Linked DNA regions of Homo sapiens. The protein of the gene in region 1 interacts with the protein of each later gene in a pairwise test. Each region holds a gene or a part of one and is shown in the gene's direction. Other genes may lie near its edges.

What was found.
Region 2: the proteins of GNB2 (region 1) and UBE2U interact in binary tests that used the Homo sapiens proteins (3 or more experiments, as listed by UniProt).
Region 3: the proteins of GNB2 (region 1) and UBE2S interact in binary tests that used the Homo sapiens proteins (3 or more experiments, as listed by UniProt).
Region 4: the proteins of GNB2 (region 1) and CFTR interact in binary tests that used the Homo sapiens proteins (3 or more experiments, as listed by UniProt).

The regions. Positions count from the first base shown.
Region 1 is NC_000007.14:100,668,141-100,677,720, forward strand, and holds the start of GNB2 (guanine nucleotide-binding protein G(I)/G(S)/G(T) subunit beta-2), read left to right. Parts: upstream 1-5,599; 5' UTR 5,600-5,783; intron 5,784-8,036; 5' UTR 8,037-8,125; coding exon 8,126-8,182; intron 8,183-8,394; coding exon 8,395-8,433; intron 8,434-8,552; coding exon 8,553-8,659; intron 8,660-9,211; coding exon 9,212-9,275; intron 9,276-9,357; coding exon 9,358-9,520; intron 9,521-9,580. UniProt on the Homo sapiens protein: Guanine nucleotide-binding proteins (G proteins) are involved as a modulator or transducer in various transmembrane signaling systems.
Region 2 is NC_000001.11:64,205,538-64,214,186, forward strand, and holds part of UBE2U (ubiquitin-conjugating enzyme E2 U), read left to right. Parts: intron 1-101; coding exon 102-183; intron 184-1,226; coding exon 1,227-1,319; intron 1,320-5,204; coding exon 5,205-5,302; intron 5,303-8,649. UniProt on the Homo sapiens protein: Catalyzes the covalent attachment of ubiquitin to other proteins.
Region 3 is NC_000019.10:55,398,700-55,405,892, reverse strand, and holds the end of UBE2S (ubiquitin-conjugating enzyme E2 S), read left to right. Parts: intron 1-1,414; coding exon 1,415-1,605; intron 1,606-1,745; coding exon of another isoform or gene 1,746-1,892; exon of another isoform or gene 1,893-1,930; intron 1,931-2,550; exon of another isoform or gene 2,551-2,761; coding exon of another isoform or gene 2,762-2,950; intron 2,951-3,235; exon of another isoform or gene 3,236-3,303; intron 3,304-4,130; coding exon 4,131-4,457; 3' UTR 4,458-6,148; downstream 6,149-7,193. Other genes in the region: RPL28 (large ribosomal subunit protein eL28), read right to left, coding at 2,762-2,950. UniProt on the Homo sapiens protein: Accepts ubiquitin from the E1 complex and catalyzes its covalent attachment to other proteins. Catalyzes 'Lys-11'-linked polyubiquitination.
Region 4 is NC_000007.14:117,665,025-117,670,814, forward strand, and holds the end of CFTR (cystic fibrosis transmembrane conductance regulator), read left to right. Parts: intron 1-434; coding exon 435-540; intron 541-1,883; coding exon 1,884-2,084; 3' UTR 2,085-3,641; downstream 3,642-5,790. UniProt on the Homo sapiens protein: Epithelial ion channel that plays an important role in the regulation of epithelial ion and water transport and fluid homeostasis. Mediates the transport of chloride ions across the cell membrane.

The DNA.
Region 1 (9,580 bases):
CACTATTCACAAGAGCAAAGACATGAACTCAGCTTAGGTGCCCATCAATGGTGGACTGGATAAAGAAAATGGTACATGTATGTTATGGAATACTATGCAGCCATAAAAAGAAACAAAATGAAGAAACAAAGAAACATGTTTTTTGCAGCAACATGGATGCAGCTGGAGTCCATTCTCTTAAGTGAATTTAGAGCAGGAACAGAAAACCAAATACCATATGTTCTCACTTGTAAACAGGAGCTAAACATTGGGTACTCATGGACATAAAGACGGCATCAATAGACACTGGGGACCACTAGGGGGAAGAAGGAAGAAGATGGGGCAAGGGTTGAAAACTATTAATACCTAATGGGGCCAGGCATGGTGGCTCACGCCTGTAATCCCAGCACTTTGGGAGGCCAAGGCAGGTAGATCACTTGAGGCCAGGAGTTCAAGACCAGCCTGGCTATCATGGCGAAACCCCATCTCTACTTAAAATACAAAAATTAGCCAGGTGTGGTGGTGCACACCTGTAATCCTAGCTACTTGGGAGGCTGAGGCAGACGAACCACTTGAACCCAGGAGGCGGAGGTTGCAGTGAGCTGAGATCGTGCCATTGCACTCCAGCCTGGGCAACAGAGCAAGACCCTGTCTCAAAGAAAAAAAGAAAAAGAAAAACTACCTATTGGGTACCGTGCTCATTACATGGGTGATGGGATCAATCGTATTCCAAACCTCAGTGTCACACAATTTACCCATATAACAAACCTGCACACGTACCCCGTGAATCTAAAATAAAAGTTAAAAAAAACAAAAAAAGAGGCCGGGCACAGTGGCTCACGCCTGTAATCCCAGCACTTTGGGAGGCTGAGGCAGGTGGATCACGAGGTAAGGAGATCGAGACCATCCTTGCTAACACGGTGAAACCCCGTCTCTACTAAAAATACAAAAAATTAGCCGGGCCTGGTGGCACGTATCTGTAGTCGCAGCTACTCAGGAGGCTGAGGCAGGAAAATCACTTGAACCCAGGAGGCAGAGGTTGCAGTGGGCCGAGATTGCGCCACTGCACTACAGCCTGGGCGACAGAGCGAGATCCGGCTGAGTGCGGTGGCTCACACCGGTAATCCCAGCACTTTGGGAGGCTGAGGCTGGCGGATCGCTTGAGGCCAGGAGTTCGAGACCAGCCTGGGCAACATGACAAAACCCTGTCTCTACAAAAAAAAATACAAAAAATTAGCCAGGCATGGTGGTGTGCACCAGTAGTTCCATCTACTGGGGAGGCTGAGGTGAGAGGATCATCTCAGCCCAGGAGGTCGAGGCTGCAGCAAGCTGTGATTGCGCCACTGCACTCCAGTCTTGGTGACAGAGTGAGACCCTGTCTCAAAAAAAACAAAACCAAAAACACCAAAAAAAATTTTCTCCATAGGCACTTCAAACCTAAAACTTCCCAATCTTAAACTCTTGATCTTCCTCCCAGAATATGTTCCATCTCAAATGTTCTGCTCGAAGTAAACAATACCTCCAGGCCAAGCACTGTTATTTTTTCATTTTTGTTTGTTTGTTTTGTTTTGTTTTGTTTTGAGACAGGGCCTGGCTCTGTCACCCAGGCTGGAGTGCGGTGGCAGAAATTCAGCTCACCACAACCTTTGCCTCAGGAGTTCAAGTCATCTTCCCACCTCAGCCTTCCGAGTAGCTGGGACTACAGGCGCACGCCACCATGTATTTCTTTCTTTCTCTCTCTTTTTTTTTTAACGACGTAGTCTTGCTATGTTGCCCAGGCTGGTCTTGAACTCCTGGACTCAAGTGATCCGCCCACCTCTGCCTCCCAAAATGCTGGGATTACAGGTGTGAGCCACCACGCCTGACCCTAATCCATATTTCAATGCCCATCTGCCTCCTCTATAGATTGCAAGCTCCATGAGGAGGGTGCACCTGTCATTCAAGGTTGCATCCTCATTGCCTAGGGCAGTGCCTGATACATCATCCGGTTCAGTAAATATCAACGGAATGAGTTAAAACAGGAAAGCTTATTAGCACAGAAACCAAAGCAGCACACATGCCCTCTTGAGATTGACAAAATTGTGCTGTAGTCCTGCGCTGCTTGTTGTTAAGTGACTTTAGGGAAGTCATCGTGGCCATCTACAGATTGAGGAAATCAACGTAATTATCTCTGAGGTCCCTCCCAAATTCTCATGTGTAGTTGACATCTGTTATCTATTGCTTATATGTCACTGAATTGGCAGGTATGCATAAATAGAATTTGCATCTAACTACGAATACGATTGTTTATATTTTCTTTAAAAAAATATTGGGCTTTTGTTTCTCATATTGAGAGCTCTGTTATGCCATTTTCGAATTTCTCCCAGATGTCCCCCCCGGCCCACCTTCAAACTCTGCTTCCTTAGACAGATTTGGCAATAGCTTTGTAAGTGATATGGACATAATTGCCTAAAATAATGAAAACCTACAGGATTCTTTTTTCATTTTCCCTTTGGCATGTTTACAATTCCCTGCCCCACCAGGCAGATCATTCTGTGTGTGTGAGTGTGTGTACCCATTACAAAGACAACTACTATGTTCATAACATATTCGATTTGGAAAAAACAATTGTAGGCTGGGCACGGTGGCTGACATCTGTAATCCCAGCACTTTGGGAGGCCGAGGCGGGCAGATCACGAGGTCAGGAGTTCAAGACCAACCTGGCCAACATGAAACCCCATCTCTGCTAAAAATGCAAAAATTAGCCAGGCCTGGTGGCATGCTCCTATAATCCCAGCTACTCGGGAGGCTGAGACAGGAGAATCGCTTGAACCCAAGAGGCAGAGGTTGCAGTAAGCCGAGATTGTGCCATTGCACTCCAGCTCTGGGTGACAGAGCAAGACTCCATTTCAGAAAAAAAAAAAAAAGAAAAAAGAAAAAACAATTGTTTTTGAAAAGTGATTTGTAATGTCTTTCACAGAGACTAAATGAAGAGTATGTTTTGATACTTTTTAAAATATAATTTCATCTTTTTAGATTCTGACTCATGTGCACATGAATGTACCCATGTACATGGGTATATCTTGTGATGCTGAAGTTTGGGGTACAATTGATCCCGTCACCTGGGGTACAGTACCCAATAGGTAGTTTTTCAACCCTTCCCCCCTCTAGTAATCCCCCGTGTCTATTGTTCCCATCTTTATGTTCATGAGTACCCAGTGTTTAGCTCCTACTTATAAGTGAGAACATGCAGTGTTTGGTTTTCTGTTCCTGCAGAAATTTATCCACTTAGGATAAAAGCCTCTAGCTGCATCCATGTTACTGCAAAGGACACGATTTCTTCTTCTTTTCTTTTCTTTTGTTTCTTCTTTCTTTCTTTCCCTTCCTTCCTTCTCTCTTTTCTTTCTCTTTCTCTCTCTCTCTCTTTTCTGCATCCATGTTGCTGCAAAGGACATGATTTCTTCTTTTTTCTCTCTTCCTTTCTCTTTCCTTTCTTTTTTTCTTTCCTTCCCTTCCTTCCCTCCTTTTCTTTCTTTTACTTTTTCTTCTTTTGTCTTTCTTTCTTCTTCTTGAGTCAAAGTCTTGCTCTGTTGCCCAGGCCGGAGTGCAGTGAGTGGTGTGATTTTGGCTCACTGCAACCTCCGCCTCCCGGGTTCAAGCAATTCTCCTGCCTCAGCCTCCTGAGTAGCTGGGATTACAGGTGTGTGCCACCACGCCCAGCTAATGTTTGTATTTTTAGCAGAGACGGGGTTTCACCATATTGGCCAGGCTTGTCTCAAACTCCTGACCTCAAGTGATCCACCCGCCTCGGCCTCTCACAGTGCTAGGATTACAGGCGTGAGCCCCATCTCGTTCTTTCTTATGGCTGCGTGTTTTGATACTTTCAAATTACAAGGACTCAGTGAAGGCTATTCGTTGCCTTGAACTTCCCAAAGCATTTCCACAATCGATGGGGTTCTCAGTAAGAATCCGGGACTTGGAGGGCAGATGCTGTCAACATCCCCATTTAACAGATGTGGAAACTGAGGCCTAGACCTACGTTCTTGTCCCTTTACAGGCAAGGTCCCTGGAGGAAGGGGTTCATCTAGAGGCTCATACAGATAAACTGGAATGTACAGTAAAGTTTTGGCTGCCTGGGTTCATATCTAAACTCTGCAGCCTCAGGTCTCTTTCCACTATTAGAAAATGGGGAGAAGGCTGGGCGCGGTGGCTCACGCCTGTAATCCCAGCACTTTGGGAGGCCGAGACGGGCACATCACCTGAGGTCAGGAGTTTGAGACCAGCCTGGCCGACATGGTGAAACCTCGTCTCTACTAAAAATACAAAAAAAAATTAGCTGGGCATGGTGGCGGGCGCCTGTAATCCCACCTACTCCAGAGGCTGAGGCAGGAGAATCGCCTGAACCCAGGAGGCGGAGGTTGCAGTGAGCCGAGATCATGCCACTGCACTTCAGCCTGGGCGACAGAGTGAGACCCTGTCTCCAAAAAAAAAAAAAAGAAAAGAAAAGAAAATGGGGAGAATGTTAGCACTTAATTTCCCAGTATTGTGAGACTTAACATATGTCAGCCTGGGCAGCATAGCAAGACCCCACCTCTACCAAAAATTTAAAAATTAGCTGGGCATGGTGGCTGGGGCACGCCTGTGGTCCCAGGTACTAGGGAGGCTGAGGCAGGAAGATCACTTGAGCCGAGGAGATTGAGGTGGCAGTGACCTACAATCGCGTCACTGTACTCCAATTAAAAAATAAGTGTCGGGCCAGGCGCGGTGGCTCACGCCTGTAATCCCAGCACTTTGGGAGGCCGAGACAGGCAGATCACGAGGTCAGGAGATGGAGACCATCCTGGCTAACACCGTGAAACCCCGTCTCTACTAAAAATACAAAAAATTAGCCGGGTGTGGTGGCACACGCCTGTAGTCCCAGCTACTCAGGAGGCTGAGGCAGGAGAATCGCTTGCACCCGGGCGGCGGAGGTTGCAGTGAGTTGAGATAGCACTCCAGCCTGGGCGACAGAGAGAGACTCCGTCTCAAAAAAAAAAAGTGTGGCTCTCAATAAATGAGTTGTTATTTCAGTGGCAAGCCCTGAAAGGGGGTCTACAAAGGCCCAGTGGGCGAGGCTGAGGAAATGCCTGGACACGACCCTTCTCATGGCATTCCCGGGGCGCCCGCATCAGCCCCTACCCACTCCCGCTCGGGGACTTTCTCGGAATCGCGCTTCTTCTTCCAGCAGCCTCGAGGCCGGCCCCGTCCAGGTCTCTTTAGCTCCGCCCCCTGGTGAGGGGCGTGGCCTCCTCAGGGCCGGGGCGTGGCCCAACCGGGAACTGGGGCGTCGAACTCCCCTTCCCAGTCTGGAGCCACCCATTCCAGGCGGGGCGGGAGGCTGATCACGTGACCAGCGAGCGGTCTCACCCTCCTCATATGCCAGTACCACCTCCTCCAGTCCCAGAGGGGGGATGTCTTACTCCTTTCCGTGAAGCAAACCCTTTGAGTACGGTTTGCGTCCACAAAGCGTAGGGTGAGAACCTTGGGAGCGACTGGGCCCGTCTTTGCTCCCTCGGTGGGGTTTTGTCTCCTGGCTTCCCCCAAGTGCGAGGCAGTTGGTCTCGCCCAGCCGGGTCCTGGGCGCGGCGGCGGCAGCCGCGTCACTGGCGGGCGGGATCCCTCCGCTCTGGGGAGGCAGCGCTGGCGGCGGGGCTGGGGCCACTGAGGAAATCCATCCGCGCCGCCGCCGCCGCCGCCGCCGCCGCCGCCGCCGCCTCCGCCGCGGAGGAAGACAGCGCCGCCCGCGCACCGCCAGCGACCTCCGCCGCAGAGTCCCACCGCCACAGGTACCTTCGCTGGCAAAAGGAGTCCTCTCGCCCCCCAGCCCCAATTTCCCCCAGGGGAACCTCTCTTCCTTCGGTCTCCCGGGGCTGGCCTCCTGGGAGCGGACGTAACTCCCCAGACCTCCGCTCCCTTCCCCTCTTGCCCGGTCGCTCCCAAACCCGGAAGGGGAACTGGGGAACCCTCGCCCCCCACCGTGCGTGCGCTTCCCCGCACCATCAGCGAAGTTTTTGCCCGACCCCAGACCCCAGCCCAGCCCCGACTGCCTCTTGCTCCCTCGGAAGTTGGGGGGCTAAATTCCGGGCTTCCTCTAGGCCCCGCCCCGCCCCCTTTCCCCACCGCCACCCTCCCGCCTGCCCCCGGGGAGCACCCCTCGTGTCCTCCACTGTCGCACCCCTGCCGGCCCTCGCCTTGCACAACTCCAAAATCGGGGAGAAGCAGGCAAGGCCGCGCGCCACCCTTCCTTTCGTCTCCACCCTACCCACGATTTGGGTGCTGCCCGTGGTTTCTGGCCCCACTCGCCGAAACTGGAGCCCTCGGCGCCCTATTCCCTTTACAGATCCTCACCCCAAGCCCAGCTCCCAGGCGCCCGCCCCCCGCCCAGCTTTCTTTTAGGCAAAATGGAGGTCGTAGGGGCTGGAGGGCCAGGCCCACTGCGCTTCGCAGCGCCGCACCAGCCCGCGCCTTCCAGCTGCCAGATCCAGGGACCCTCCCGTCACTCTCCTGAGCCCCGCCAGACCTGCGGAGGCGGTTGCACCCTCATTTCTCTATGGAGCGCCGGCTGCTATATCCCTAGAGTCTGGGGGCTGCTGAGGGCCCTGGGGGGTGATGGGGACCGAGGGCTGAGAACGTCGCCCCCGCCCCCAGTTTCTTCCTCCAGCCGTGCTTCCTTCTGCCCTGGGCCTCCGGCGGTGCCGCCAGGCCTGGGCTGCTAGTAGGTGGAAGAGGCTTTGTGCGGGCCTGGGGGTTGGGTAGAGTAAGGAGTTCTGCCCGCACCCCCCATCCCCCGATTTTGAGGGTCACCCCTTGGCACTGGCGTAGAAAGCTGAACTTACAAGGAGGGGAAATGTCAGTGGGGAAGAGGAACGCCCTGCGCCTGGGGGAAGTGGGAGCTGGGTGGGGGACGCCTGGGCCGGCCAAGTGCAGTGTGTACGGCCGGATCGCACAGGTGTCCCGCGGGCGGGGAAGGACTCAGGCTCCCGGAGCGGAGCCAGCCGGGCCCCTGGGGCCCGGGCGCCGAGCCTGCGGGCTGGGCCCCCCGGGTGTCCAGGGCGCCGCGGCCAGGCCGCCTGGGGCCGCCCGCCCGCGCCTGGGAGAGAGCACCTCCGCGCCTCGGGGCCGGGGACCTCGTTGCGGAGCCGTAATTACTCGAGAGCGGCTCCCACGGGCTTTCTGCGGGCGCGGCGGGGCGGGCGGTCCCTGCGCTGGAGGGAGCAGCGGCTCGGGGCTGCCTTCCCCGCCGCTGTCACCCCCACCCGCGGCGGACGGCTAATGGGGCGCAGCCGGACCGGGGATTATCCGGGGTGAGCCGTCCAGAACCTATTAGCGCCCAATCGGCTTTTCCCAAATCCTGTAAACAGCCACCCGGGCCGGTTCTGGGGAGGGCGGGAGGCTGGGTCGGGCGGGGGCGATGGGGCCGGGGGTGGGGTCACCCACCCTACAGGTCTCTGCCGTGGATGCGGTTGCCTTGGCAACGGGGCTAGGGTGGGGGCATTTCACCAATGAGGTGCTCTCGGTCCGGGTGACGGTTGCCTAGGCAACCCCACGAACAGCCCAGCTTTCCCCTCTGGTCTCTCCCCCCACCCGCCACCATCGAAGCTGGGGGTGTGTGTGGAGGGTGTGCGCCTTGTGGGGTGAATTTCAAGAGGCACCGCCCCTTTTAAAATTAGGTGCTTGGAGGGCGGTGCCTGTGCGGGCTGGGGCAGAAGCCAGGTCTGTTTTCGAAGGGACACCCCCGCCCCCCCCGCCCCAGTTCCTGCCGCGGGTGTCCTGCCCGGGCTGTGTCCGAGGGAGGGGTTTCCCCTGCGCTTCCTCTTGCACTTCCCGCTCCGTTTCCGGGGGGCGGGAGGAAGATTGGGGAAGTCGGCTCTTACTCGGCGACGTCTCTGGTGCCGGAGACCCTGGTTGTGCCCGGGGACGGCGGCCGCGCCGCCCCTTCCCCCTCCCCTTGCTTACCCCTTCCGGGCCGCGCTGCAACCCCGCCTTTCTCCCCACTTCCCCGGCGGCCTCGGGCCTGACGTCAGCCCTGCATCCCCCAGGCCTCGGGCCAGCGGCCAGGAGCTGCCTCCCCCAGCCCCCGTCCCGCGGCCCCCAGCCGCCCCCAACCCTGCCCCACGGGCCCGGCGCCATGAGTGAGCTGGAGCAACTGAGACAGGAGGCCGAGCAGCTCCGGAACCAGATCCGGGTGAGGGCCTGGTGCGGGGCGGGCGATTCATGTGTACACCGCCCGGTGCCCTGGACCGGGTTGGGTGAGGGTGTTGGTGGGGGAAGGGGGAGGGAGGGCCCCTTAATGGCTCAGAATCTGACCCTGTCCACTCCTGTCTTCTGTTCTCTTCTCTCCCTTTCCTCCCCAACCTGTCTTCTCTCGCGTCTCTCTGGCTCTGCCATCCCTTACAGGATGCCCGAAAAGCATGTGGGGACTCAACACTGACCCAGGTGAGGGCACTTGGTGGCCAGAGCGTAACTAGGGGTTGAAGGGGCAAGGATCAGAGGCCGCTGCCCTCTGCAGTCCTGCTGCCTGGGCCTCCCCGAGCGCATTCTGTCTCTACCTCCAGATCACAGCTGGGCTGGACCCAGTGGGGAGAATCCAGATGAGGACCCGGAGGACCCTCCGTGGGCACCTGGCAAAGATCTATGCCATGCACTGGGGGACCGACTCAAGGTGTGTGTGTGTGCGCGGGCTGGCGCTGTGGGCCGACTTTCTAGCAGGCCGTGGGAGCAGCCTCAGATCTGGCGGAGTAAGCAGGCCACCAAAATACCCAGCGTACGTCTGGAAAAACGGTGACTCCCAGACATGTCCGCCAGACCTGGACAGGCAGGACCATGCTGGTGAGAACTTGTGGGCTGCAGCTGGAGACTGTCTCTCAGGTGGCTCACGCCTGTAATCCCAGCACGTGGGGAGGCCAGGGCAGGATCACTTGAGCTCAGGAGTTTGAGACCAGCCTGGGCAACATAGTGAGACCCTGGCTCTACTAAAAATTGAAAAATGAGCTGGGTGTGGTGGTGCTCACCTTGTAGTCCCAGCTATGCGGGGGAGGCTGAGGTGGGAGGATCACTTGAGCCTAGGAGTTCCAGGCTGCAGTGAGCTGTGATGGTGCCACTGCACTCCAGCCTGCACAACAGAGAGAGACCCTACCTTCTCCCACCCAAAGGGAAGGGGGTGTGTCTTGTTTTCACGCCACCCTTCTGCTCTCCCTACACCGTTCCCCACCAGGCTGCTGGTCAGCGCCTCCCAGGATGGGAAGCTCATCATCTGGGACAGCTACACCACCAACAAGGTAGGGTGGCGCGGGCTGCGGGGTGGGGCAGGGCCACAGGGCCCTGGCTGGCTCTGACCCCGGCGCTTCCCCTGCTCCGCAGGTCCACGCCATCCCGCTGCGCTCCTCCTGGGTAATGACCTGTGCCTACGCGCCCTCAGGGAACTTTGTGGCCTGTGGGGGGTTGGACAACATCTGCTCCATCTACAGCCTCAAGACCCGCGAGGGCAACGTCAGGGTCAGCCGGGAGCTGCCTGGCCACACTGGTGAGGGGCCTGGCCCAGTTCGGGCCCTTTTTGGGGTTGGGGGGTGCACTGCCCTCCGTG
Region 2 (8,649 bases), on another chromosome or scaffold:
TTAGAGTTTTTAGAATTCAGTGTGACCTGGTATATGATTTTCAAAACTTCAATAAATACTTAATAAGTTTTTTCTGATTTAATTTTGTTTTTAACTTCAAGGGTATCACTGCTAAGCCTGTAAGTGAAGATATGATGGAATGGGAAGTTGAAATTGAAGGTCTACAGAATTCAGTTTGGCAGGGTTTGTATTTTCAAAACCAATCTATTTTTTAAAAAAGTCTTTATACCATTATTAGCCCATCCTCTTTTTATGTAGGATAAGGTCGCATTATATAAATTTCCTGAAATTCTTCTTCATATGCATAAGTTTGCATTATACCAGTTGTCTAAAATTCTAAAAATATTCCCATTTTTTTTATTTATGACTTTTTTGCCATGTGTCAACATAGATGGAAATTTGGGGTATTTTTCTTTATGCCAAATCTTAATTTTATTACATTTTTAAGAAGCAGACACAATAGAGCATATCAATTGAGAGAATATCGTCTGCCTTCCGTGAGATCAGGGAATAACTATCAAAATTCCTATTGGCTTCAAAACCCCACAGTTACTTCTCATTTTTTCCTTTATGATTTTCCCCCAAATTTTCATAAATCAAAAAATCTCAAGAACACTAAGCCACTATAAACTTTAATGCTCATGTTTTCTTTCAATTATGGATTAATAAGATAGATTCCTTGAGTGAGGTAGGGGAGACAAACACATCAGCTGATAATTACAATAAAATATACATTATTATGGATTTTGAACAGAATGCTAAAGAGGAAGAGGATTAGTTAATTATGCCTGAGGGAGTCAGGAATGTCTTCCCAAGGAGATCACATTTGAGTTGAGTCCTGAAGAATCTGCCAGGTTCAGAAGAAGGATAAGGAAATTCGGGCAGAGTAAACAGCACAGCAAAGACTTGTAGACAAGAAAGGGTGTAGCAGATTTTGGGAACATGAGTTCAGTCAATACGAGATACAACAGAGGGGGTGGATGTTAGGGCGACAAAGGTAGTAGATGGAAAGGACTAGTGGGAAAGAGACTGAAAACGTATGATTATAATAGATTGTGAAGTGTCTGTTATACTATCCAGAGGAGTCGGTGCACTCTATGAATCAATTTACTTAAAAATAAAACTGTGGAAAGACTAAACCATAGGGAGAAACTCCAGTGTTAATCAGGTTACAGTTAATCAATAAACATGACACTTTAGTAAAAATGTTTATTTCTATATTATAGGTTTAGTCTTCCAACTGACAATACATTTTACATCGGAGTACAACTATGCTCCTCCAGTTGTGAAATTTATAACAATTCCGTTTCATCCAAATGGTAAGAACTAAATGACATTTTTATCATTAGAGGCTTTGTCCCTATTATCCTTGTTTCTTATAATAATCATGTTTCTTTTTAAGAACTTTATTATGATTCTAAAAGTAAGAACTCTCATTGGGGAAAATATGAAAAGGCTGGAAAAAATTAGCAATCACCTTAAATCCTAATGCAAAGAGAAAATACTGTCAACATTTTGCCAAATTTATTTTCCTTTTTTCTAAGTATGAATTTTTTCTATACAGTTGAGGTATTATGCATGAAGTTTTGCCTCTAGGTTTTTGATTTTATTTATTTTATGGTGTTTTTTTTGAGACAGAGTCTCTCTCTGTCGCCCAGGCTGGAATGCAGTGGTGTGATCTCGGCTCACTGCAACCTTCACCTCCCAGGTTCAATCGATTCTCCTGCCTCAGCCTCCCCAGTAGCTGGGACTACAGGCATGCGCCACCACACCTGGCTAGTTTTTGTATTTTTAGCAGAGATGGGGTTTCACCATGTTGGCCAAGCTGGTCTTGAACTCCTGACCATCCGCCCACTTTGGCCTCCCAAAATGCTGGGATTACAGCTGTGAACCACTGCGCCTGGCCTAGGTTTTTAATTTTAAAACTATATGTCTTTTTTCTGCATTATTAAACAGTCTTCAAAAGATCATCTTAAATGGTTCAACAATACACTTAACCATTTCTGTATTGTTCAATATTTTAGTTGGATCTAATTTTTCATTATTATAAAAAAACGATGCACTGGACAGATTAACTTTTTTTAAATAAAAGGTAAGTTAGATTGCTACTTAAAGTTATACACAAAACCAATTCCTGAAGGATCAAAAATCTAAAAATTTTAAATGCTGGAAAAGAAGGAAATCTAATAGAATTTTTATGGGCTTGGTGAGGAAGACGTTTCTCAGCATGATAAAACCCAGTAACTGTATGGAAAATATGACACATTAAACTGCAAAACCTGTTAAAACTTCTCTACGGCCCAGGACATTATACTCAGAGGTCAAAGACACTGACTTTTGCAAACTGAGGGAAAATATTTGCAATGCATGTAACAGAATATGTATACCATATGAAGAACACTTGTCAATCAATATAAAAAGAACATAAAGCAATTAAAAAATGGAGAAAGGCTATAAACAAACACTGGACAGAATAAACAACAAAAATAAACATAAAAAGATTATCAATCTCACTACTAAGAAAATAAAAGCAAATTAAAACAAAAAGTATTGTTATTTATCACATATTCATAAAATGTCAAAATATAACATACATATTTAGTAGGCATGGGCAGACATTGTTCCTCTGATATAATCATGACCTTTTGAGGAAGTAGTGTGACAGTTTCTAATCAGGTATAAAATGCATATATCCCTAAATTCCCGTAATACCATGTTTATAAACTATTCTGTAGAAATATTAGCACAAGTGTGCAAGAGTGTGTTATATTTAAAGACGTTTATTCCCACCAGGCTCAGTGGCTTATGCCTGTTATCCCAGTACTTTGGGTGGTCAGTGGGGAGTATTGCTTGGGTCCAGGAGTTTGACACCAGCCTGGGCAACATAGTGAGACCTGTCTCTACAGAAAATAAAAAAATTAGCTTGGCATGGTAGCATGTGCCTGTAGTCCCAGCTACTTCAGGTCTGAGGTAGGAGGATTGCTTGAGCCCAGGAGGTCGAGGCTGCAGTGAGCCATGATTGTGCCATTGCACTCCAGCCTGGGCAACAGAACAAGACGCTGTCTCAAAAAAAAAAAAAAAAAAAAAAAAAAAAAAAAAAAAAAAAAAAGATGTTTATTCCCAACAGCAATGTTAGAAATAGGAAAAATGGAAATAACTTCAATCTCCATTAACACAGGAATTTTAAGTGAAATATCCTACAGTTACGTGTATTGCTTCTAAACAGAACGAGGAAGGTCTACGAACCTTTTAGGTCTAGATCATTGCTATATCCTTAGAATCTTCACTGCGTGGCATATAGTAGGTATTCAGATATTTTTTGAATAAATATTTGTGTCCAGAAATATGTTGAAAATACATTGTTAAGTGAAAAAATACATTGAACAATAAAATGTAAAATATATTCCCATTTAATAAACACACACATATGGGTGTGTATACATATATGTGTTTGTGTGTATATTTGTATAGACCAACTGGTAATATTGGTCTTGAATAGTAGAATTAGTAGGCAGGGGAACATTCATATTTTACATTAGATTTTTTATGTTTTTTTCCCAAGTACATTATTTTATTGTAATTAAAACCTATTTTTGGTATCTATAACACAAAATTAATTACATACGTGTGCCTTTATTTGTTTAAAATAGTTAGAATTATTGGATTAAATTCAATGGGGGGAGGTACTCTTATCCCCTAGTCCTCATCCCTCCCACTTCCATAAAGTAGAGGGAACTTTAGTCTCTAGGAGGGGGAAGGTATAGGAAAACTTGTGACTGCTCTTTTTTTTTCCCCCATCACTCCTCCTAGAAGTCACTTATCTGATTAGGGAGATGAAGGAAAGAATTGAGCATATGTGGCCCAGAACTTGCTCAACACTCTCTCCTTCTGACCATACTGGGTATAGTCTCTTTTGCTCCAGGCAGGAAACTTAGGCAGGCCTTCGGTTTGGGAGTTAAGTTTAAATCAGGGGGACTTTTGTGGAGCCTGATTAAAGCCATTCATCAAGTGCGTTCTCCATTTCAGTCTTATGTGCAATGAAGCTGATGTTTTTACTTCCACCTTTCAATACTTTGATCTATTTTATAATTACATATGAACTTGAGGGGAGAGAAGGGTTATTTACTAGCTTTCAACCCCCGCCCCCGCCCGCCCCGCAAAAGATGGCTATGTACAGTTTTAAGTCTTTATATAAAAAGCCAAATTGCCTTTCGGTGGTATTTGTACTCCTACCAAAAAGTACATATAAAGTTCTTATTTTAGCACCTTCCAATTCTGGCCATTGAAACTTTGAAGAAAATTTTTTTGCCAATTTGGTAAGAGTCTTGCTATTATTTTAATAAGCACTTCTTTGAATACTTGAGAAGTAAACATTTCCCACCTTTGTTGATTCTTATTTTGTGACTCGTATGATACAATTGACAGTGCTATCACATTGTCCTAGATGTTGCAAATATTTCCTCTAATTTGTCATTAATTTTCAACTTTGTTTATGCTGTTTTTTCACATCTGGGATTTAGAGATTTTTATGATTTAAAATAAATTTATATTTAAGATCTATTAATCTTGTCCTTTGAGGCTTTTGCAGTTGTCTTTCATCTTAGATGATCCTTTCCCAAAAGAAAATCAAATAGTCATTTTAAGTTTCTTCTAGTCATTCTACAGTTTTATTTTTCTTATTTAACTCTATTATTTTTTCAAACACTAAATTACTTAACTGTGTTAGGGCATATGCCAAGCTCCTGTACATCTTTCCAACTTAACATAACAGGACAACGCTGGAGGGAGGTTGTGCCCATCCTCAATGTGAAGATTCCATTTCTGGGACTAAGGCATTTACTGTTTGTCACCATTTCCAGTCTGGGGGAAGGGGGAAGAAAAGAAGGAAAGCCAGCTTCCTTTAAAAAAAGACTCAGAAATTGCACACTTATCCTTATGTCCCACAACAAAAACTTAGTCACAAGGCCACATCTTGCTAAAGGAGAGGATAGGAAAAACTGTAGGGGCACCTATGTATTCAGCTAAAACAACATGGTAATGGGTGGGAACCAGGGATGGGTATAGTGCTTCTCAGTACAGAGAGAAGAACTAGGAAAAAGGAAGAGTAAATGCAGATAATTTTTCTGGCTTATCATTTTGATGTTTGTAAGTTTTAAATAATAATTTATTATAAATGCAAATATTAATGTATTATTTTAATACAGTAGACCCACACACTGGTCAGCCCTGTATAGACTTTTTGGACAACCCTGAGAAGTGGAATACAAACTATACATTGAGCAGCATCTTACTTGCCCTACAGGTAAGAATGGATTTCATATAATCCTCTCTTTAATACTTTTAATTACCCTAATTATTCAAACTACAAGGATTAAAATATACAATGCATATTTAAGTGTTTAAAGAATTTGAGAAGTTTATTTAAATCCATACTTCTATATGAAGGCTACAAAGTGGAACTTACTTAAATTATAAAAACTATTATTTAAAGTGAAATTGATAGTTAAGGCCCCTCAAGACCAAAGAATGCATATCTTATAAAAGAATAAAATAATTATTTAGATGGTTTCAATTCTGAAAATATAACCTTAGGTTTTCTTTTGGTTCCTAACTTCACTTCCTGATGTTGAGCAAGCCTTTTAGATCTTTCTTCATTTATGGACCTTGCCTTCCTGAGAGAGGTGGATCGAATGACTACAACTTAAAATGTTCACTTTTGTTTTTTGTTTCTGACAGTGCTAGTTAGCTACTTTCTGTCCCAATAGTGTTCACATCAAACCCAGTGAACAATTTATACCAAGGATTTTCTCCTCTCCTCAGATGCCTGTTTCTCAGATGCCACCTTTACCCACTGGACCCATGGTCCTTAGAAGCATACCTCAGTGTTGTGCTATTTCTTTTCTTTTCTTTTTTTCTTTTTGAGACAGGATCTTGCTCTGTCACCCAGGCTAGAGTGCAACGGCACAATCCTGGCTCACTGCAGCCTCAACCTCCTGGGCTCAAGTGATCCTCCCACCTCAGCCCCTCAAGTAGCTGGGACCACCGGCATGCCCTACCATGGATGGCTAATTTTTTAAATTTTCTGTAGAGACGGGGTCTCACTATGTTGCTCAGGTTGGCCTCAAACTCCTGGGCTCAAGCAATCCTCCCACCTCAGCCTCCCAAAATGCTGGAATTACAGGCAAGAGCCACCACATCCACCCAGTGTTGTGTTATTTCTGGTCCTTAAAAATGCCTCCTTTCTCATCTAATGCTAAAATGAATTATTTCAGTGAACTTGCTTTGACCTCTTAGAGCTAGCTTAGCAATAATCTATCCATGACCTACTTATCACCAATAATATCTGAAGATAAATAATTACATTTTGATTATCTAGAATACTTGGAATATAAAATACTCTGGCATAATTGAGTTTTTAAATATAGAATTATAATATAAATTGCATTTCTTCTATTTCTTGTATTTGAAAATAAATAAAATAATACTTTCCTGGCTAGTCATCTTAGCATACTAAGTAAAATATAATCTTTAGGAAAGATTCAATGTTCAGTTCATTCATTCATTCTACAAATATGTATTGAGGATCTACTTGTGTGAGGTTGTGTTCTAGGAAGGAGACATTTGAGCAAAAAATTTAAGGGAGTGAGTGAGTGTGATATGCAGAAATCTGGGGTTAATCCTTTGGATTCCTTTAAACTGAGACATATTCTGATCTCATCCACCTAAACTAGAGTCTGCCCTAAGAATAGCAAAATGATCCCAAAATGTAATGAGTAAGGGCAAACCAGAATGAACTGGTGAAAATTTTGAATTGCAGAATAATTTGATAAAAGGAAAATGTGGGGCTCTGAGTTAGCTTGCTTGGCTTCACATCCTGGTTCTGCCACTTGATACCTTTGTATCTATCATTGGACAAATTTTTCCACTTCTCAATGTCTCAATTTCTTCATCAGTAAAATGGGGCTGTTGTTACCTCATGTAACCTGTGAGGAGGAAATTAATTAATGTGTGTAAAGAATTCGGAACTGTGCCTGGTCCAAGAAAATAACTCAATAGTTAATACAGGTCGAGTATTTCTTATCTGAAATGCTTAGGAATTGGAAATTTTTCCAATTTTTGAATATTTGCATTACATATACTTACCATTTGAGCATCCCAAATTTGAAAATTTGAAATCTGAAATACTCCAGTGAGCATTTCCTTTGCACATCATGTCGGTCCTCAAAAAGTTTTGAATTCTGGGGTATTTAGGATTTCAGATTTTCAGATTTAGGATGCTGAACCTCTAGTTAGTTAACATTATGATTGTTCTTACTATTAAAGAGTAATGCAAAGTGACACCAAAGTGTTGCCAAATATATCATGGAAAGCCAGTAGATAACACAATTTTGTCTTTTTATTTTTCGAAAACATTAATAAAACAAATATGCCCACATTACAAAAGATTTTTAAGATAATGGGAAGGAAAAGAAAATCACTGACAATTATAAAGAAAACCCTTAACTTTACTGTTACTAGGAAAGAGCTTTCTGCTCTTTTCTCCTGTTTTTCAGTTTAAAATCTTTCAGTGGATCCCACCTTCTCCACAGGTGTAAGCTCTAGTTCTGTTGCATATCTAATCCTCACACCTAGACTCTCCCTAACACACCAGGCAATCCTGCTCATACTTATATCTTCATGCTTTTCTGCACTCACATTGCTTGGGTCAATTCAGATAAAAAAAACATTCATAGAGTTCTAAAGTTACCTTAGAAATGGTCAGTCTCCAGTTCCCCTCTGCCTGGCAACTCATTTTCTCCTCTTCTCTTCCTCAGTCTGTCCAGCAAGCAGTTGTTCATGTTGTTGTAAGAGTTGGAACAAATGAATCGTCCTCTAGGATACCTTTTCTGATTTATTTTCCTAGGGAGAATTAATAGCTTTGGTTTTGGGGGAGCTTCCTTTGCTACACACCCAACAGTACCCTGAGCAGATTTCTGTTAGAACACTAATACTATAAAGCACACACTGCTTACTTATCTGTCTTCCCCTATTGGACTGCAAGCTCCCCAAAATCAGGAAACAGGTCTAATTCATCCTTGATTTCCTGGAGCATACCAAAGACAATGCTGACATTTGGTAGATATTAAATAAAATGAATGAATGAATGAACCTGAATTTTTACATTATTGCTATTATGGTATGTATATTGCCATGTGCTTAGCAACAAGGATACATTCTGAGAAATGAGTTGTTACACATTTCATCGTTGTTTGAAAATCATGGAGCGTACTTACACAAACCAAGATGGTATAGCTTAATACATACGAAGGCTATGTTATAGCCTGTTGCTCCTAGGCTACAAACCTATACAACATGTTACTGTACTAAACACTATAGGCCATTGTAACACAATGGTAAATATTTGTGTATCTAAATATAGAAAAAGTACAGTAAAAATTTGGTATTATTATCTTATGGGACCACCATGATATATGCCGTCTGTTGTTGAGTGAAACATTGTTATGTGGCACGTGAGTATGTAAACTATACAGCCTGTTTCTTTTTCACTTAACATTGTCTCTCAAGTAACTTCCATATGGTTATAATCAATATTTTAATAGCTATTCAGTATTCCTTTGAAGGTCAGTGCTGCGCAGTAGCACTTTCTGC
Region 3 (7,193 bases), on another chromosome or scaffold:
TTCAGGGGAGGACCTAGCAGGCCGGTGCTCAGGCTGCTGATGGGCTAGGGGAGGGACAGTATTTTGACCCAAGCAAGTGGGTGAGTGGGAGAGGCGTTCACTGGGTTGGGAGGCTGTGGAATTAACAGACAGTTGGATCCTTGATCTGAAAGGCATATAAATGGGCATCTTATAGGAAAGTGCGTACTTGGGTCCCTGCCACCTGGGAAGGGCCTGTGACTGGAGTGGTCAGTTGGGCTGAGACGGGGGATCCAGGAGGGTGCAGACGAGCTTGATAGTGACACAGGTGGGGGCTGCAAGATGGGCATCATCTCTGAGGTTTTGGGGGAGGTCCTGTGGCCCCCTAGGAACCCAGCCATTCTTGCTCTTTTTTTTTTCTCTCTCTAAACGGAGTCTTGCTCTGTCGCCTAGGCTGGAGTGCAATAGCACAATCTCTGCTCACTGCAACCTCTGCCTCCTGGGTTCAAGCAGTTCTCCTGCCTCAGCCTCCCAAGTAGCTGGGATTACAGACGTGCACCACCATGCCCAGCTAATTTTTTGTATTTTTAGTAGAGATGGGGTTTCACCATGTTGGCCAGGCTGGTCTCGAACTCCTGACCTTGTGATCCGCCCGCCTCAGCCTCCCAAAGTGCTGGGATTACAGGTGTGAGGCACCGCGCTTGGCTTTTTTTTTTTTTTTTTGGAAACAGAGTTTCGCTCTTGTTGCCCAGGCTGGAGTGCAGTGGCGCGATCTCCGCACACTGCAACCTCCCCATCCCGGGTTCAAGGGATTCTTCTGCCTCAGCCTTCCGAGTAGCTGGGATTACAGGCATGCACCACCACGCCTGGCTAATATTGTATTTTTAGTAGAGACGGGGTTTCTCCATGTTGGTCTGGCTGGTCTTGAACTCCTGACCTCAGGTGATCCACCCGCCTTAGCCTCCCAAAGTGCTGGGATTACAGGCGTGAGCCACCACACCTGGCCTCTTGCTCTTAAGAATTCTACAGCCTGACTGGGCATGGTGGTTCACGCCTGTAATCCCAGCACTTTGGGAGGCTGAGGTGAACAAATTGCTTGAGCCTAGGAGTGCAAGACCAGCTTGGGCAACATAGTGAGACCCTATCTCTTAAAATAAAAAAGTAGCCAGACCTGGTGGCATGCCCGTAATCCCAGCTACTTGGCAGGCTGAGATGGGATCACCTGAGCCCAGGAATTGCAGGCGGCAGTGAACTGAGATTGTGCCACTGCACTCCAGCCTGGGTGACACAAGAGACCTTATTTCAAAAAAAGAAAAAAAGAATCCTCCAGTCTGTTGGCAGAGTTGGCGGGGCACCCACCTGCATCACAATCAGACCGTGGAGACTGGACTTTGGGGTGTTGAGGTGCCTTGGGACTCCTGAGTGCCCTGACCCTGTACCCCTCCCTCCACTCCAGAGGGGACCCCATATGCTGGAGGTCTGTTCCGCATGAAACTCCTGCTGGGGAAGGACTTCCCTGCCTCCCCACCCAAGGGCTACTTCCTGACCAAGATCTTCCACCCGAACGTGGGCGCCAATGGCGAGATCTGCGTCAACGTGCTCAAGAGGGACTGGACGGCTGAGCTGGGCATCCGACACGTACTGCTGGTGAGTTCTGGGCTGGGGCTGGGCCTCCTGCCTCCTGCCTCTGGAGGTCTGCTGGTGTCTGAGCCATAGCGCTTTGTTTAGTTTTTCTGAATCAACTCTGAAGTGGTTGAAGGTTTCCACATAAAAATCCATGTTGCTAGCTTTCCTGGAAAGACAAACAGTGCCAGACCCAGGACACCCAAGTACTGTTGAGAAGTGCCCAGGAGCACCTTACTATGCAACGAGTGGTGAGTTTGTATTGTAGGATGGTTTTTCTCTTCTCCCTTTTTTTTAAAAAACAAGGATAGGGTAGGCCAGGTGTGGTGGATCACTTGAGCTCAGGAGTTCGAGACCAGCCTGGCCAACATGGTGAAACCCTGTCTCTACTAAAAATGCAAAAATTAGCCGGGCATGGTGGCACATGCCTGTAATCCCAGCTACTTGGGAGGCTGAGGCAGGAGAATCGCTTGAGCCTGGGAGGCAGAGGTTGCAGTGAGCCGAGATCGCGCCACTGCACTCCAGCCTGGGTGACAGAGTGAGACTCTATCTCAAAAAAAAAAAAAAAATAAGATAAAAAATAAAACAGGAATGGGGTCTCATTTGTTGCCCAGGCTGGTGTCAAACTCCTGAACTCAAGTGATCCTCCCACCTCGGCCTCCCAAAGTGCTGGGCTTATAGGAGCCAGCCACTGCGCCTACCCTGTAGGACAGTTTTCTGACAGGTGGAGGTCAAGGGTCTAGTTAGAAGCTCTTTCTTTCTTTTCTTTCTTCTTTCTTTCCTTTTTCTTTCTTCCCTTTCTTTCCTTTCTTTCTTTTTGTTTTAAAGATACTGGCTCTTTGTTGCCCAGGCTGGAGTGCAGTGGCGCAGTCATAGCTCACTGTAGCCTTGAACTCCTGGGCTCAGGTGATCTTCCTGCCTCAGCTTCCTGAATGGCTGGTATTACACGCATGCACCACCATACCCAGCTAGTTTTTATATTTTTATGGTTTGCAGAGATGGGGTCTCATTAGAGGCTTTTTTGCTAAAGCTGAGCTTACATGCCGTAAAACTCAGTTCCAAAGTATACAGTTCAGTGGTTTTTTAATAGCGATAGGGTTCATAAACCAGTGTTTCTCAGCCAGAGGTGATTTTGCCCCCCAAGGGGTATTATGCATTGTCAGGAGACCAGAAAGGGTTGTCACAACTCGGGGGTGCCACTAGCATCTAGTGGGTGGAGGCCAAGGGTGCTGCCCAAATCCTGCAGCGTACGAGATGGCTCCATGACACAGAATGACCTGGCTGCGGTGTTGCTGAGGTGGAGGCGTCCTGGTCTAGGCTGGTGCTCCAGGCTGCTTACAGCCTGCTGCCTCCCAACCCTTCCCGCAAGCTGAAAAAAAAAAAAGTTAACCAAATTTCTAATGAGTCCCTGGGGCACATGGCAGAGAGGGTGGGGAATTGGGGTTTCCTGCCATGGGGAGGGAGAGGATTGAGCTCCAAGGTAAACAGACCCCAAACCCTTCCCTCCCACATGTACCGCCTCCCTTCCCCTGGGGTGTCATTGGAGGCTGCTGGGGACATTGGCACCGAGCTCCAGGCCTACTTGCTGCTAGGTCAGCATCTGGGCCTGTCAGGGGCTCAGCCAGCAAGAAGAGCAGCCAGACCTGCAGTTTGGGTGCAGTGATGAGAATTAGGGTGGGAACCTGTGTCCTGGTCACCATCAGTGATATCTGCTGAGCATCTGCTGAGCCAGGTACTGTGTATGTGTCATAGTGGCCCCAGGGAGCAAACTGCTGTGGCCAGTTTGCCCAGACCCACTTCAGAGGATCCAGCTGGGGCTGCTGGAGGCCTGGCTGCAGGTCACACCTCTGCACTCCAATTTACCCCTCAGGACGGGCTGTGAAGGGGGTTGAGAGGAATCTCTGGACCACCCTCGAAGTGCACCTCAGCCAGCAGTCCTGGTGTCTTGCCCTCTTGTGTGTGGTCCAACCCAGCTAGAGTCTTAGGCTGTGAACTTCGGATGTCTGATAAAAGACAGAGGTCAGGATTTATGCTGTATCTGGAAAGATGGGGAGCTTTAGAGTCCAACACGCAGGTGTGATTTCCTCAAATCCTGAGGCCCTGGGGAAGTCTCTTCTCTCTGTCCAGGCTGCAGGCCTCACTCGTTGAACCAGAGGGCCTCTAAGGTCATGCTGAACTGCATGGAGGCAAATTCAAAACCATAATAGGACTCAAGTCTGGGGCTCAGGCAAGTAATGGACTCCTGAGAGGGGGCCTTGGCGTTTCCCCCGTTACCCAGCAAGTTCCACGGAGGACCAGGGACATTTTAAACCATTGGGCCTATGGCATCGTGTCCTTTTGGGAACATCTGCTGTGAGGCAGGTCACATGAAGGTGGCCTCTGAGGGAGACAGGAGCAAAGATGAGGGAGGATGCAGCATAGGTGGGGCCTGGATCTGCAGCTGAGTTGGGAGCAGAAGGAACAGCCAGTGCGGAGGCCACCCTCTTGTGGAGGCCTGGGGGTCCCTGTAGGTTGCCCGACCCACTGTGACCCTGAGCCTCTTCCCACAGACCATCAAGTGCCTGCTGATCCACCCTAACCCCGAGTCTGCACTCAACGAGGAGGCGGGCCGCCTGCTCTTGGAGAACTACGAGGAGTATGCGGCTCGGGCCCGTCTGCTCACAGAGATCCACGGGGGCGCCGGCGGGCCCAGCGGCAGGGCCGAAGCCGGTCGGGCCCTGGCCAGTGGCACTGAAGCTTCCTCCACCGACCCTGGGGCCCCAGGGGGCCCGGGAGGGGCTGAGGGTCCCATGGCCAAGAAGCATGCTGGCGAGCGCGATAAGAAGCTGGCGGCCAAGAAAAAGACGGACAAGAAGCGGGCGCTGCGGCGGCTGTAGTGGGCTCTCTTCCTCCTTCCACCGTGACCCCAACCTCTCCTGTCCCCTCCCTCCAACTCTGTCTCTAAGTTATTTAAATTATGGCTGGGGTCGGGGAGGGTACAGGGGGCACTGGGACCTGGATTTGTTTTTCTAAATAAAGTTGGAAAAGCAGCTTCTGTGTCTCACAGATGCCCCAGGACCGCTGCATGGTGCCATGTGGCTCTGGGAGTTTGGCTCCCCTGCACAGGCCCTGGGTCCTTGTAAAGCCTCATGGACTGCAGCAGTGGGTCCATCTAGCTCACCAGCCTTGCTGTTTGAGGTTTGGGTCCACCTCTTTGTTCTGTGGAGGTAGAGCGGTCACAACCCCTCTTTGGAGTCAGATTTCCAATCTAAAATGGGGCGAGGACCTGGAGCTGCTCCTGGTGGCCTGAGCGGCACTGCCCTATACTTCTCCCTCTAGAATAATGGCCACGTTGGTGTGGCAGTGGTGTTCCTGCTCAGGACGGCCAGGTGCCAGCAGTCTGGCATGAGGCTCGCCTCGTCTGTCTGGTTCTGGACTGGGCCAAGGTTCGGTCCCCTTGAATCATCTGATCCTGCTTTGTGCTAAAGATTGGTTTTTCCCTTGTGGGCAGCAAAGCCTGTTCCCACATGTATTTCTGCACAACAGATCACAAAGCCAGCGGCTTAAAACAACACCCACTTCAGACTTTGTGTTGGAAGTCTGGACACGGCTGAGCTAGTCTCTGCTCAGTGCTTTGCAGGCTAAAATTGAGGTATTGGTTGTTGGTGTTCCTTAGTCTGGGTCCTCTTCCATGCTCATGGTTGTTGGCTGATTTCAGTCCTCGTAGAACTAGGGTCTTAGCTCCAAGAAGCTGCCCCTCCTTGGGCCCTGGCAGGTCTGATTTAAGGGCCCATTCCCTTTGAGGTGCTCACCGGATTAGGTCAGGCCCATCCAGATACTTAAGTGATAATGACTAAATCACAGGGGTAAGATCCCAGCTTAGTCTTAGTTTCTGCCCTCAAGGGGAAGGGATTAACCTGGGTGTGCACACCAGGGGGTGGGGAAACTTCCCATTCTATTAATGCGTTTAGGTTATTTAGACCAATGTCTCATTAATTTTAAAAAAATTAAAAATAGGCCAGGCGCAATGGCTCACGCCTGTAATCCCAACTTTAGGAGGTGAAAGGATCACTTGAGGCCAGGAGTTAAAGACGAACGTGGGCAACACAGTGAGATCCCATCTCTACAAAAAGTAAAATACATTTACAATAAAAATCTACAAGTTCTGACCCATAGGAGAGTGGAAAACTCAAAGGCTGCTTTTGTCCTGAAAGAATTTGCCTATTCTAATAAAACAGCTGAGGTTGAAACGGCTCAGCCTCTGAAAGGGGTCTGACCCTTCCTTGAGCCCTTGCCTCCAGTGACAATCTCCCAAGCTAAGGGAGAAAAGGAACCAAAAGTCTGCACTCCTCTCTACCTCTAGCAGTGCAGGGAGCGAAGGAAAGACAAGGGAAGAAACCCTTCAGATTTTCAGATCAAATTCACATCACTGGCCATCCAAGAAATCTTAAGCTCTGCGTTTATCGTCAACCATTTCTGCATGAGGGAAGCAAACAGTCCTTGCTGAAGGAAGGTGCCTGCATCCTGGGCCTCGGAACCCACTGAAATAATTTAGCGAAGTGCATAATAAAAATAATATTTGCCCTTAGCCCTGACAGAGTTCCTCAATCCCTTGGAATCTCCTGGGTATTAATAGGAGCAGTCTTTGTCCTAATGAAGCCATCTGTGATGGGCCCCTGCGTAGCTTCAGGAAGGGGGTTGGTCACTAGAAATACCAAGACCGAATTAGACAGTTGGGAATTTCAGCCCCACCCATACCTACCAACCTCTGGGAAGAGAGGGGCTGAAGGTTGAGGTCAATGACCAATGGTCAATGATTTGTCTAATATGCCCATGTAATGAAACCTCCGTTAAAACACTAAACAAGGTTGGGTGGGGTGGCTCACGCCTGTAATCCTAGCACTTTGGGAGGCCAAGGCGGGCAGGTCACCTGAGGTCAGGAGTTCAAGACCAGCCTGGCCAACATGGTGAAACCCTGTCTCTACTAAAAATACAAAAATTAGCTGGACGTGGTGGTGCATGTCTGTAATCCCAGCTACTTGGAAGGCTGAGGCAGGAGAATCTCTTGAACCTGGGACACAGAGGTTTCAGTGAGCTGAGATCCTGCCACTGCACTCCAGCCTGGGTGACAGAGCGAGACTCTGTCTCAAAGAAAAGAAAAGAAAAGAAAAGAAAAAAATTAGCCAGGCATGGTAGTGTGCGCCTGTAATCTCAGCTCTTCGGAGGCGGAAGTGTGAGGGTCACTTGAGATGGGCAGGTTGACGCTGCAGTGAGCTATGATCGTACCACTGCACTCCAGCCTGGGTGAGAGAGGGAGACCCTTCCTCAAAACAAACCGGGCACGGTGGTTCACCTGTAATCCCAGCATTTTGGGAGGCCAAGGCTGGTGGACCACTTCACGTTGGGAGTTCAAGAGCAGCCTGCCCAACGTGGCGAAACCTCATCTCAACTAAAAATATAAAAATCAGCCAGGCATTGTGGTGCATGCCCATAGCCTCAGCTATTCAGGAGGCTGAGGCAGGAGAATTGCTTCAACCCAGGAGGCAGAGACTGCAGTGAGCCGAGATTGCACCACCGCACTCCAGTCTGGGCAACAGAGTGAGACTCTGTCTCAACACCCCCGCCACTCCCCT
Region 4 (5,790 bases), about 17 Mb from region 1:
CTTGCTAAGAGTCTTGTGTTTTCTTCCGAAGATAGTTTTTAGTTTCATACAAACTCTTCCCCCTTGTCAACACATGATGAAGCTTTTAAATACATGGGCCTAATCTGATCCTTATGATTTGCCTTTGTATCCCATTTATACCATAAGCATGTTTATAGCCCCAAATAAAGAAGTACTGGTGATTCTACATAATGAAAAATGTACTCATTTATTAAAGTTTCTTTGAAATATTTGTCCTGTTTATTTATGGATACTTAGAGTCTACCCCATGGTTGAAAAGCTGATTGTGGCTAACGCTATATCAACATTATGTGAAAAGAACTTAAAGAAATAAGTAATTTAAAGAGATAATAGAACAATAGACATATTATCAAGGTAAATACAGATCATTACTGTTCTGTGATATTATGTGTGGTATTTTCTTTCTTTTCTAGAACATACCAAATAATTAGAAGAACTCTAAAACAAGCATTTGCTGATTGCACAGTAATTCTCTGTGAACACAGGATAGAAGCAATGCTGGAATGCCAACAATTTTTGGTGAGTCTTTATAACTTTACTTAAGATCTCATTGCCCTTGTAATTCTTGATAACAATCTCACATGTGATAGTTCCTGCAAATTGCAACAATGTACAAGTTCTTTTCAAAAATATGTATCATACAGCCATCCAGCTTTACTCAAAATAGCTGCACAAGTTTTTCACTTTGATCTGAGCCATGTGGTGAGGTTGAAATATAGTAAATCTAAAATGGCAGCATATTACTAAGTTATGTTTATAAATAGGATATATATACTTTTTGAGCCCTTTATTTGGGGACCAAGTCATACAAAATACTCTACTGTTTAAGATTTTAAAAAAGGTCCCTGTGATTCTTTCAATAACTAAATGTCCCATGGATGTGGTCTGGGACAGGCCTAGTTGTCTTACAGTCTGATTTATGGTATTAATGACAAAGTTGAGAGGCACATTTCATTTTTCTAGCCATGATTTGGGTTCAGGTAGTACCTTTCTCAACCACCTTCTCACTGTTCTTAAAAAAACTGTCACATGGCCAGGCACAGTGGCTTACATCTGTAATCCCAATACTTTGGGAGGCTGAGGTGGGGGGATTACTTGAGGCCAGGAATTCAAGACCAGCCCAGGCAACATAGTGAGGCCCCATCTGTCTTTATTAAAACAAAACAAAACTGTCACAGCTTCTTTCAAGTGATGTTTACAAATTCCCTATGGTTTAGTCACAAGGAAGTTCTGAGGATGATGTATCACGTCATTTCTGTTCAGGCTTTTGAGCCTCCTGGAGGTAAATGGTTTCCTTACTGAAGGCTTGTTATTACCATGATTATCACTAAGCTTGAAGTAACAAATTAGGGGGGCAGACTCACAACCTCTTGCCCTGCCATGGACAAGTTCAAGAATCTAAGTAAAGTCCTCTATTGTCTGATCTTGGATTTGCTCAACCTGAACAAGCCAAGGAGGTGTATTAAACTCAGGCACATCCTGACCAATTTGGAATTCTTAAGCTTCAGATCACTGTGGAAGAGGCTCAACTCTTTATGGTGCTGTAGACTTACGCTCATTTTCTAGGTAATTTATAAGGGACCTAATATTTTGTTTTCAAAGCAACTTCAGTTCTACTAAACCTCCCTGAAGAATCTTCCAGCTGCTGAGTAGAAAATCACAACTAATTTCACAGATGGTAGAACCTCCTTAGAGCAAAAGGACACAGCAGTTAAATGTGACATACCTGATTGTTCAAAATGCAAGGCTCTGGACATTGCATTCTTTGACTTTTATTTTCCTTTGAGCCTGTGCCAGTTTCTGTCCCTGCTCTGGTCTGACCTGCCTTCTGTCCCAGATCTCACTAACAGCCATTTCCCTAGGTCATAGAAGAGAACAAAGTGCGGCAGTACGATTCCATCCAGAAACTGCTGAACGAGAGGAGCCTCTTCCGGCAAGCCATCAGCCCCTCCGACAGGGTGAAGCTCTTTCCCCACCGGAACTCAAGCAAGTGCAAGTCTAAGCCCCAGATTGCTGCTCTGAAAGAGGAGACAGAAGAAGAGGTGCAAGATACAAGGCTTTAGAGAGCAGCATAAATGTTGACATGGGACATTTGCTCATGGAATTGGAGCTCGTGGGACAGTCACCTCATGGAATTGGAGCTCGTGGAACAGTTACCTCTGCCTCAGAAAACAAGGATGAATTAAGTTTTTTTTTAAAAAAGAAACATTTGGTAAGGGGAATTGAGGACACTGATATGGGTCTTGATAAATGGCTTCCTGGCAATAGTCAAATTGTGTGAAAGGTACTTCAAATCCTTGAAGATTTACCACTTGTGTTTTGCAAGCCAGATTTTCCTGAAAACCCTTGCCATGTGCTAGTAATTGGAAAGGCAGCTCTAAATGTCAATCAGCCTAGTTGATCAGCTTATTGTCTAGTGAAACTCGTTAATTTGTAGTGTTGGAGAAGAACTGAAATCATACTTCTTAGGGTTATGATTAAGTAATGATAACTGGAAACTTCAGCGGTTTATATAAGCTTGTATTCCTTTTTCTCTCCTCTCCCCATGATGTTTAGAAACACAACTATATTGTTTGCTAAGCATTCCAACTATCTCATTTCCAAGCAAGTATTAGAATACCACAGGAACCACAAGACTGCACATCAAAATATGCCCCATTCAACATCTAGTGAGCAGTCAGGAAAGAGAACTTCCAGATCCTGGAAATCAGGGTTAGTATTGTCCAGGTCTACCAAAAATCTCAATATTTCAGATAATCACAATACATCCCTTACCTGGGAAAGGGCTGTTATAATCTTTCACAGGGGACAGGATGGTTCCCTTGATGAAGAAGTTGATATGCCTTTTCCCAACTCCAGAAAGTGACAAGCTCACAGACCTTTGAACTAGAGTTTAGCTGGAAAAGTATGTTAGTGCAAATTGTCACAGGACAGCCCTTCTTTCCACAGAAGCTCCAGGTAGAGGGTGTGTAAGTAGATAGGCCATGGGCACTGTGGGTAGACACACATGAAGTCCAAGCATTTAGATGTATAGGTTGATGGTGGTATGTTTTCAGGCTAGATGTATGTACTTCATGCTGTCTACACTAAGAGAGAATGAGAGACACACTGAAGAAGCACCAATCATGAATTAGTTTTATATGCTTCTGTTTTATAATTTTGTGAAGCAAAATTTTTTCTCTAGGAAATATTTATTTTAATAATGTTTCAAACATATATAACAATGCTGTATTTTAAAAGAATGATTATGAATTACATTTGTATAAAATAATTTTTATATTTGAAATATTGACTTTTTATGGCACTAGTATTTCTATGAAATATTATGTTAAAACTGGGACAGGGGAGAACCTAGGGTGATATTAACCAGGGGCCATGAATCACCTTTTGGTCTGGAGGGAAGCCTTGGGGCTGATGCAGTTGTTGCCCACAGCTGTATGATTCCCAGCCAGCACAGCCTCTTAGATGCAGTTCTGAAGAAGATGGTACCACCAGTCTGACTGTTTCCATCAAGGGTACACTGCCTTCTCAACTCCAAACTGACTCTTAAGAAGACTGCATTATATTTATTACTGTAAGAAAATATCACTTGTCAATAAAATCCATACATTTGTGTGAAACTTTGTTGTTTTCAGATGCGTTCACTTGTCATGTTTCATCAGTCTCTCACTCCAATTTCTAAGCTTCATGGAACATGAAACACGAATCTGTCTTTTAGATATAGCCTCTTTTGAGAATTCACATGAATTAGAACACACATTTTTAGTTATCTGTTTAAACTATGGTAAAATATACATAACATAAAATTTTCCATTTTAACCATTTTAAAGTTCAGTTCAGTGTCATTAGGTACATTCACATGGTTGTGCAAATATCACCATCATCCTTCCACAGAATTTTTTTCTTGCAAAACTGAAACTCTTTTTACCCGTTAGTCAATAATCCCGCATTTATCTTTCCTCTAATGCCTGGCAACCACCATTTTACTTTCTGTCTCTGATTTTGACTACTCGAAGGACCTAGGAGTGGGATCATACAGTATTTGTATTTTTGTGCTTATTTCATCTAGCATAATGTCTTCAAGCCTCATCCATGTTGCAACATGGGTCAATTTTCTTCCTTCTTAAGGTTGAATAATATTCATTATAGAGTAGTCCCCCCTTATCCTTGGGGAATATGTTCCAAGACCCCCAATGGATGCCTGAAATCACTGATAGCACTGAACCTGATTACTGTGTTTATTCCTATACATACACACATACATATGATAACATTTAATTTATAAATTAAGCACAGTAATAGATTAACAACAATAATCATAAAATAGAACAATTATAACAATATATTATGACACGAGCGATACAAATGTGGTCTCTCTCTTTCTCAAAATATCTCATTATACTGTGCCACAGGTAACTGAAACCACAGAGAGCAAAACCTTGGATAGGGGGACCACTCTATAAATATGTACCACATTTTTCCTCACCCATTCATCCATCACTGGCTACTTGGTTTGCTTCCACTTTTTGGATATAGTGAATAATGCTTCTATAAATATGGGTGTACAAATGTTTCTTCATGTCCCTGCTTTCATTACTTAGGATATGTTTGAAGTTATTTTTATTTTTAAATGGAGGCTTATAGAACACAAAAGATTTATATTCTGCAAGTGTCCATCTATTTCTTTTAAAGCTTATTCAAAAAGTGGTAGCTATCTCATAGCTCTTGGTAAGTTAAAAATCTTCATCAACGAAAATACTATTTCTGCGTTGGCACCTGCATGGATTTTCTTTGTCCAAATCCCTCTTTTTAATTGATGAGGCTTCTTTAGTTCCTTTTTTTCTTCCTTGTTGAGCTTCTTCATGAAATGTGCAGTTGCTAGCATGTGGTGGACGGACTGCAGATCCCTACTGAATGCCAGGCCCTCCGGCCCTGTGTTCTCTTTCTTGGAGAGGTTTGTTTTCACACGTAACCCCAAGAGGGCAGTCTCAGAGCGTGTTCTAGTCTAGTTCTTTTTTTAAAATTACTAAACTTTATTTTTTTTAGGGCAGTTTTAGGTTCCCATCAAAATTGAACAAAAAGTATGGAGAGTTCACATATAACTTCTCCATACATGATAGCCTCCCCCATTCAACATCCCACACTAAAGTAGTACATTTGTTACAACTGTGAAAGCAAATAGAATTTCAAGACCCCAAGCTCACTATGCCAAAGGGCAAGTTAAGCTTCAGAGCTGAATTACTCAATATTGCCTTCCTTTTGTTCCCTAACAGCCGTAACTTCACAATCTTGTGTGATAGCCTCATCCATAAACCAGGTTCCCACAATGATAGAAGGCCACATATCTCCCCAAATGACCTCCCTCACAATTGTGCCCAAGGAAAATCCTTGTGAGACCCTATCTTTTAGGATACATATCCCTCCTATAAAATAGCCCTAAAACTGAGTTATGTTGAATTTCACCCTGATGATGTCAATTACCAGCTTGTCTTCATAGGCACAGGACGCGGGCAAGACCAGAAATCATCGTGCTGTCTACCCTGCAATGAACACATAATTGACTTTTCCTTTACTCCCTCTTTTTACCTATAAAATTTGGATTTACTGAACACTAACCAAAGCCTCCCCTGAATAGAACCATTTGCCTCACTGCCTACCCTCTATCCTCTTTTCCTTCTCCGTGTTTGCACTTTACTCTTTAAATATTAAAGTTCCCAAACCCTCTTTGGAAAAGCACAGGTCACAGATGCTCCTCTGGCTTGTGTTCTT